Linked DNA regions of Homo sapiens: all the other regions are linked to region 1. Evidence: fine-mapped expression QTL. A gene starts in region 1. Each other region holds a variant in brackets. All regions are shown on one strand. Distances are from middle to middle.

Region 1 (2,854 bases):
GTGGTGGTGGGCCTGTAATCCCAGCTTCTAGGGAGGCTGAAGGAGGATCACCTGAGTCCAGGAGTTCAAGGCTGCAATGAGCTATGATGCCCACCATTGCACTCCAGCCTGGGTGACAGAGCAAGACCTCAAAATAATTAAAATTAAATAAATAAATTAAAGACATTGAATCTTCACAATGACTGGAAGTTAGGCATTCTTCTTATCCCCATCTTGCAGATGGCTGAACTGAGTGAGGCAAGGAGAAGGTAAGTAAGTCTTTGAAAGCTACACCACTAGTAAGTGGCAGGTGCAGGCTTCGAACCTGCAGTCGTCTAATACCAACGACTTAGCTTCACGTTCAACCCCTGCCTGAGACCACCTCTCCTTGCAGAAGCCAGGTCAAGGCCTGATGTTTGCTAGGGTGTGATGGGTGGGGTGCCTCAGTGGCAAGAGTGCTCACTCCTGCCTGGGGGAGTCTGGCAAGGGTTCACAGAGGTGACCTTGAATTGGCTGGTGGAAGGCGAGTAGGTGTTCAGCAGGCGGACTGGGGACAGACAGGCAGGGTGTCTGCACCGCAGCCCTGGGCGAAAGCTTGCACTGCGGGCAAGCGGCAGGGCTGACGGGGAGCCCAGGGATCGGAGCCAGCACCGGGGGCTTATTAGGGCTGCGGCCGCCCCAGGCCCTGCCTTTGGACCCTTCCGGCCTGCTTGGCAGATGCCACGGTTGGTTCCCCCACGGGGCATATTTCCGCCGGGCTCCAACTTAGGACCCCAGGCGGAGGTCCAGTGTCAGCTGGACAAAGCTCTGTTAGGAATTTTCCTATCAGGAGTCCCTAACCCCCTACACGCACACACACGGGCGCGCGGGCGCGCACGCACACACACGCACACATGCACACATACGCGCGCGCACATGCACATAGGCACACAGAGATACGCGCACACACACACACAAACGCACTCAGATTTCCCGGACCCTGGTTTTCCTCCTGTGACCCTTTCGGGGCCGGGCTCTCACCCTAAAGAAGCAGCCCCGCCCTGGGGTGGCCCCACCCTCTCTTGGGACCTGTCATAAGTCGGACCCCGGGCGCCCGGCTGCGCAGTCCCAGCCGCCTTCCCCAGGCAGTGGAACCTTCGGGCTCCTGTAAGTAGACCTCCTGCTTTCTTTCCTTCCCTTTTCTCCCTCCTCTAACCCCCTTGCTTTCTTCCTGCCAAGTTTCTAGACGCCCCAGTGGAGGAGGTTTGCTCTTAGACCTCCTCCCCTTACGTCGAAATGACCGCTGGGTCTTGCACTCGGAGGATCTTGGGAGCCGACGTCCCGACGCCTCCCGCCCCCGCAGTTCCTTGGAGAGCTTGGAGCCGCGCGCCGGAGGGAATAGGAAAGCTTGGTTACAACCCGGGACACCCGGTAGCTTCCTGCACCCGGGAGGGGGCTGGCCAGGGAACTTGCTGGACTGCACAACTGGGGGAGGGTAGAAGAAGAAAGATCGGGGTGGGGATTCGGGAATGGGCAAGCGGGCGGCGGGCGGCGGGAGGCGAGGGTGGGAGCAAAGGGCGAGCGGGCAAAGGCCGGGCGCCGCGCCAGGCCCCCTCCTCGGGCGGGCGAGACTTTCCCGGGACCTGGCCCCTCTGCGGCCAGACCCTTTCCAGGAGGGCTTCTGGACTTGTAGCGAGTTTGGAAGCCCAGCGGTTGCTTTTTTGGGGAAAGGGACAAAGATGTGTGAACTCTAAAGAAGTTGAACTCATAGAAATAACGACTAGAATGATGGTTGCCAGAGGCTGGGAGCGGGTTCGGGGGGGAATGGGGGCTTGTTGGCCAAAGGGTACGAAGTTCAGAGACGAGAGGAGTAGGTTCTGAGATCTGTTGCACAGCAGAGTGACTAGAGCCAATAATGTGTATTTCGAAATAACAGAGTAAACTGCAAATGTCTCACCGTAAAAATGATACGTAGGGCCTGGCGCGGTGGCTCACGCCTGTAATCCCAGCACTATGGAAGGTCGAGGCGGGCGAATCATTTGAGCTCAGGAGTTCTAGACCAGTCTGGCCAACATGGGGAAACCCCGTCTCTACTAAAAGTACAAAAATTAGCTGGGCGTGGTGGCGGGCGCCTGTAATCCCAGCTACTCAGGAGGCTGAGACAGGAGAACCGCTTGAACCCGGGAGACGGAGGTTGCAGTGAGCTGAGATCGCGCCATTGCACTTCAGCCTGGGCGACAGAGCGAGACTCCGTCACAAAAAAAGTCTTAATTTTAAAAAAAGAAAAGAAGGAACAACCCCGGGCTGCAGATCAGACCGCCCCCCTGGCTCCCTCGCAATGCGGGAGTGCTCCCTCCAGGTCACCGTGTCCCCTCCCGCGGCACCGGTAGGGGAGCTGGGGAGATCACTGGCAGCTCCAAATGGTTTCGTAACTGGATTGTTTGTAGCGGATGCACCCGCGGGAAGGCGCAGGTCCCAAGTGATTCGGCAGAGTTCAGTCCAAGCAGAACATCCTGAACCCCCAGCTCGGGGCAGCCTTCATCATCTTCCCTTGCTTTGGTGCAGCGTTTCAGCTCAAAATCGGTTTGGTGTGGAGTTTAAACTCAAATCCCTACTGGGCCAAAGAAAATTCGCACCCGATGGCTGAGTGCAAGTGGTTCACACCTGTAATCCCAGCACTTTGGGAGACCGAGGCGGGCGGATCGCCTAGGCAACACAGTGAGGCTCCTCTCTACAAGAAAAGAGAGAAAAAAAAGTATTTAAAAAAAAAAAAAACGCACCTGAAAATGGGGCGGAGCAGCGGCGCCCTCCGGTGGTTTTCAGGAGTTCTGAGACTGCCTTGAAATGCGTGGCTGTTTCCATCTGAAAGAGGTGCATGGACTTCTATCTATTGGGT
Region 2 (2,854 bases), 140 kb after region 1:
TTCTGATTTTGTATGAGATATATTTGCTGTAGATTTTACATAGATGCTTTTTGTCAGATTATGAAAGTTTCTTTCAGTGACGGTTATTTCCAGCTCCACAGTTATAAACTACTCTTTGGGACAGATTCTGCTAATCATATTTTTCAGACTCCCTTACCATCTAGCTTCTTGTTTTAAGATATCTTTTCCTATCTCGAGGTAATGAGAATATTCTTTATTTCTCTAGAAACTTTATTGTTTTACCTTTGACATTTAGATTTATGATCCATCTGGAATTGATTTTCTTTTTGTTTGATGATATGGTTTGGCTCTGTGTCCCCGTCCAAATCTCATCTTGTAGCTCCCATAATTCCCATGTGCTGTGGGAGGGATGCAGTGGGAGATGATTGAATCATGGGAGTGAGTCTTTCCCATGCTGTTCTCGTGATAGCGAGTGGGTCTTAGGAGATCTGATGGTTTCAGAAACGGGAGTTTGCCTGTACAAGCTGTCCCTTTGCCTGCTGCCATCCATGTTAAGATGTGACTTGCTCCTCCTTGCCTTCTGCCATGATTGAAAGGCTTCCCTATCCACATGGAACTGTAGTTCTCCATTAAACCTCTTTCCTTTGTGAATTCTCTAGTCTTGGATATGTCTTTATCAGCATCATGAAAACGGACTAATAGATATGGTGTGAGGTAGGGATTAAATATTGTTCTCCCATATTGGAATACAGTTGATTTAACACCATTTATTGAAAAGACCATCATTTACTCACTACATTGCAGTGACACCTCTGTTTAAACCAGGTGACTATATACCTGTTTGTCTTTTACACATTTTCTATTTTGTTCAAGTGGTCTACTTATTTTTTGTTAGCATAGTATACTTTTAATTACTGTAGTTTTTATTTTATGTGTTTATTTTTTTGAGACAAGGTCTTGCTCTTTTGCTCAGGCTGGAGTGCAGTGGCATGATCTTGGCTCACTGCAACCTCTACCTCCTGGGCTCAAGCAGTTCTCCCACCTAAGCCTCTCAAGTAGCAGGGACTACAGGTGCACGCCACCACGCCCAGCTAAATTTTTTTTTTTTTTTTTGGTAGAGATGGGGTTTCACCATGTTGCCCAGGCTGGTCTCAAACTCCTGAGCTCAAGCAATCAGCCTGCCTTGCCCTCCCACAGTGCTGGGATTACAGGGCTGAGCCACTGTGCCCAGCCTACTGTAGTTAGCCTTGAAATTTGACCA[A/G]AGTCTTCTAGCTGTTTTTCCTCTTCAAGATAGTTTTGGCAAATCTTGGTCCTTTGCATTTCTTTAAATTATAGAAAGAATCAACTTTTTTTTTTCTTCTAGTGGTATCCACACATTTAAAGATTATTCATCCACTCATTCATTGATTGAGATAGTTAGTATCTTCCTGTGTTGCCCAGGCTGGCCTGGAACCACTATAGGCTCGAGCCACTGTGCCTGGCTCTAGGATCAGCTTTTTAGTGTTACCCAAGTTATCTGATGGATTGTGCTTGGATTATATTGTCTATAGGTCAATTTGGGGAGAATTGACATCTTATTAATATTTTCTAATCTGTGAATATGGTGTATCTTTTAAGTTTTCCTTAATTTCTTGTAGCGGTGTATTTTAGTTTTCTGTGTAGAGGTCTTACACATTTTTCCCTAGATTAATTCCCAGCTATTCGATGTGTTTTGATGTCATTGTAATAGGTGTTTTCAAATTTTGTTTTCTAATGGTTTATTACTATTATATAGGAAACCAATTGATTTGTGTATTTTGTTATTCTATTAATTTTTCCATAGATTGTTTTGGATTTTTTGTGTACCAATCATTATCTTTAAATAATGAAAATATTATTTCTTCCTTTGTAATCTTAATGCATTTTATTTTTCTTTGTCTTATTGCTCTGAATAAAATTTGCAGTACAAATTTGAATAGAATTGGTAATAGTGAACATCTTTACCTTGTTCCTGAACTCAGAGGAAAAGTGTTTGGTATTTTACCTTTAGATATAATGTTTGCTGTAAGTTTTTATAAAAATCTCTTATCAGATTAAGGAAGTTCTCTTTTCTTCCTTGTCTCTTCAACATGAATAGTTTGTTCCCATCTATTTAGCATGAAGAGATGTTGAATTTGATCAAATGCCTTTTCTGTATATATTGAGATGATCATATGATTGTTATTCTCTATTGTGTTAATGTGGCAGATTACACTGATTTTCAATATTAAACCAACTTTGCATCTTTGGAATAAATCCAATTTTTGTATGATGTATTATCCTTTTTATGTATCGCTGGATTTGACTCATATTTTTTACTTATTTTATGTATTATGATTTAAATATTATTTTATTATCTCATTTGCGTCTATATTCATGAGAAATATCTTTTATTTGCTTTTATCTTTCTGGGGATACCCTTGTTTGGTATCAAGGTTATTCTGGCCTCTTAACATTCAGGGATGTGTTCCCCTGCCATCCCTTTACCCCACCTTTTTCTCTTCTCTGGAAGAAGTTATGAAGGAGAATTTACCAGCGAATTCATAAGGTCCTGCCATTTTTTTGTGTGGGGAGGTTTTTAAATAATACAGTTCATATTTGTGGTAATTTAGAATGAACCAGTTTTTTAAAGCAGAATTTATAATTGTGAGTTGTATCATTGTGGTCTGTCTTTAGAAGTAATTAAAAAAGCCCCTTAAAATCATGTAATTATGACTTTGTACTAAGTTATGCCTCCGTATGATGAGCTCTTGTGTCTCTGAGGTATTGTCACATGGGATTTTTAGCTTTCTGGCCTGGCTCAGTTTTCCTTTGGTGGTAGTAAATGGGGTTATTAACATACCTAGCATAGGATTCCTACTCTAGGTGGGATTCT
Region 3 (2,500 bases), 20 kb after region 1:
AGGGCTCTCTTGCAATAGTTTTTTCTGGAATCATGAAGGAATGGAAAAAGCCTGTGGCCGTCACTATTTGTACAGAGATTCATGTAAATCCAACTGGGGTTTTTCCTCGATTGAAAATGCACAGTGGCACATATTCTGGTCTTCATAATACATTTAGAGTATAAGGGAGCTTTCTGAAAAGCTAGTTTCTATGAACCACTATAATCTGTAGTGTCATCCTGAAAGTGCTTTTCAGAATGCTTCCTAGCTCCTCTGTGATTAGGAAGCGTGTAGTCTGGTGCTTTGGACTAAATCAAAGGATAAAGGGGGCCTGGTGCAGTGGCTCATGCCTGTAATCCGAGCACTTTAGAAGGCTGAGGCAGGAGGATCACTTGAGCCCAGGAGTTCAAGATCAGCCTGGGCACTTTAGGAGGCCAAGGCAGAAGGATCACTTGAGCCTAGGAGTTCGAGATCAGCCTGGGCAATATAGTGAGACCCTGTCTCTGTGAAAATTTAAAAAATATAAGGCCAGATGTAGTGGTATGCACCTGTGGTCCCAGCTACTTAGGAGGCTGAGGTGGGAGGATCACGAGCTTAAGAGGTCAAGGTTGCAGTGAGCCATGTTCGTGCTACTGCACTCCAGCCTGGGCAACAGAGTGAGACCATGTCTCAAAAAAATATAAACATTTAAAAAATCAAAAAAGGATAAGGGGGCAGTTACTAGGAGGGCTGTCTGTGATGTGGGAGTCACAGAGCTGAGACAAAATAATAGTCTGAAGAATGACTGTACCAAGAGATGGCATACACTGCATTGCAAGGAAGAGAAGCCCAGAAACAAAGAACCAAGGAAGTCAAATGGATCGGTTGTGAAACCAGCTGGTGGAACTATGAACCAAATAAATGCAGAAGGGACCTGCTGGGTGGTCAGAAGCAAGCTGAAGCTGAGTTGTAGGATGGTCCGGGGACTGATTTCACCTATGGGATCTGTTGGCCCATTATGGTATTCCTTTTATATGTGGCTCAGCACCTAAGAGAGTGTTCCTAGGGAACCTAGGCATACGAGACCAGGAAAGTAGTGTTGGTCCATGCTTGTGACTTATTCATGGTTTCCTTTTTTTTTTTTTTTCTACTTAGGGCTGCAAAGTTGTTGGAGCAGTAGGGTCTGATGAAAAGGTTGCCTACCTTCAAAAGCTTGGATTTGATGTCGTCTTTAACTACAAGACGGTAGAGTCTTTGGAAGAAACCTTGAAGAAAGCGTCTCCTGATGGTTATGATTGTTATTTTGATAATGTAAGTACAAACTGGACTTAATATCTAATTTATTATGGAAGTACTATATAAAGCAGGAGTCTCCTACCCCTGGGCCATGGATGGTTAGTGGTCCATAGCCTATCAGGAACTGGGATGCACAGCAGGAGGTGAGGGGCAGGTGAGCAAGCAAAGCTTCATCTGTATTTACAGCCCTTCCCCATT[G/A]CTCCCATTACTGCCTGAGCTCCGCCTCTTCTCAGAACAGTGGCAGCATTAGATTCCCATAGAAGTGTAAACCCTGTTGTGAACTATGCATGTGAGGGATCTAGGTTGTGCGTTCCTTATGGAGATCGCACTACTCAGGTGCCTGATGATGCCTGATGCCTAATGATCTGTCACTGTCTCCCATCACCCCCAGATGGGACCGTCTAGTTGCAGGAAAACTCACCCACTGATTCTATGGTTATGGTGAGTTGTATAATTATTTCATTGTATATTACATTGCAATAATAATAGAAATAAAGTGCACAATAAACACAATGTACTTGAATCATCCTTGAAACCATCCCCCCAACAATCGATGGAAAAATTGTCTTCCAATGAAACTGCTCCCTGGTGCCAAAAAGGTTGAGGACCGCTGATACAAGGGAATATATTCCTAGAGTTTCCATTTTGGGGTACATGAAGAAAGTATATATGCCTTTTTTAAAAAACAGCTTTATTGAGATATCATTCATGTACCATGTAATTCACTCATTTAACGTGTAGAAGTCAATGTTTTTTACTATATTGGCAAAATTGTACAACCAGTTTAAGAATATTTTCATCACCCCCCCCAAAAAACGCTACTCATTAGCAGTCACTCTCCATTACCACCCTCCTCCCCACTAAAAGTGGTCTCTTATGACTGGCATCTTTCACTTAGCAAAATGTTTTCAAGTTTCATCCATATCATAGAATTTATCAGTGCTTTATTCCTTTTTTTTGTTTTTTGAGACAGGATCTCACTCTGTCACCTAGGCTGGAGTGCAGTGGTGTGATCGTGGCTCACTGCAGCCTCGACCTCCCTCGCTCAAGCAATCCTTCCACCTCAGCCTCCCAAGTAGCTGGGACTATAGGGATGTGCCACCACACGCAACTAATTTTTATATTTTTAGTAGAGATGGGGTTTCGCCATGTTGCCCAGGCTGGTCTGGAACTCCTGGGCTCAAGCAAACCTCCCAACTCGGCCTCCCAAAGTGCTAGGATTACAGGCGTGAGCCACCACACCCAG

Evidence for each region. PIP is the estimated chance that this variant, and not a neighbour inherited with it, causes the effect.
Region 2: its variant is the best candidate, but not a certain one, in a credible set for the expression of PTGR1 in thyroid (GTEx, PIP 0.81).
Region 3: its variant is the best candidate, but not a certain one, in a credible set for the expression of PTGR1 in aorta (GTEx, PIP 0.78).

What each region holds. Positions count from the first base shown.
Region 1 is chr9:111,597,874-111,600,727 of GRCh38, reverse strand. PTGR1 (prostaglandin reductase 1) reads left to right here and starts at 1,081. Exons shown (of 10, transcript NM_001146108.2): 1 at 1,081-1,125. RefSeq lists an enhancer at 658-1,230.
Region 2 is chr9:111,459,518-111,462,371 of GRCh38, reverse strand. All of the region lies in intron 2 of ECPAS (Ecm29 proteasome adaptor and scaffold), which reads left to right. Among named protein-coding and RNA genes, the nearest start is that of ECPAS, 23 kb to the left of the region's middle. The variant A/G (reference allele first, on the strand shown) is at 1,223.
Region 3 is chr9:111,577,565-111,580,064 of GRCh38, reverse strand. PTGR1 (prostaglandin reductase 1) reads left to right here. Exons shown (of 10, transcript NM_001146108.2): 7 at 1,114-1,269. It also overlaps a transcript of ZNF483 not described here. Among named protein-coding and RNA genes, the nearest start is that of PTGR1, 21 kb to the left of the region's middle. The variant G/A (reference allele first, on the strand shown) is at 1,453.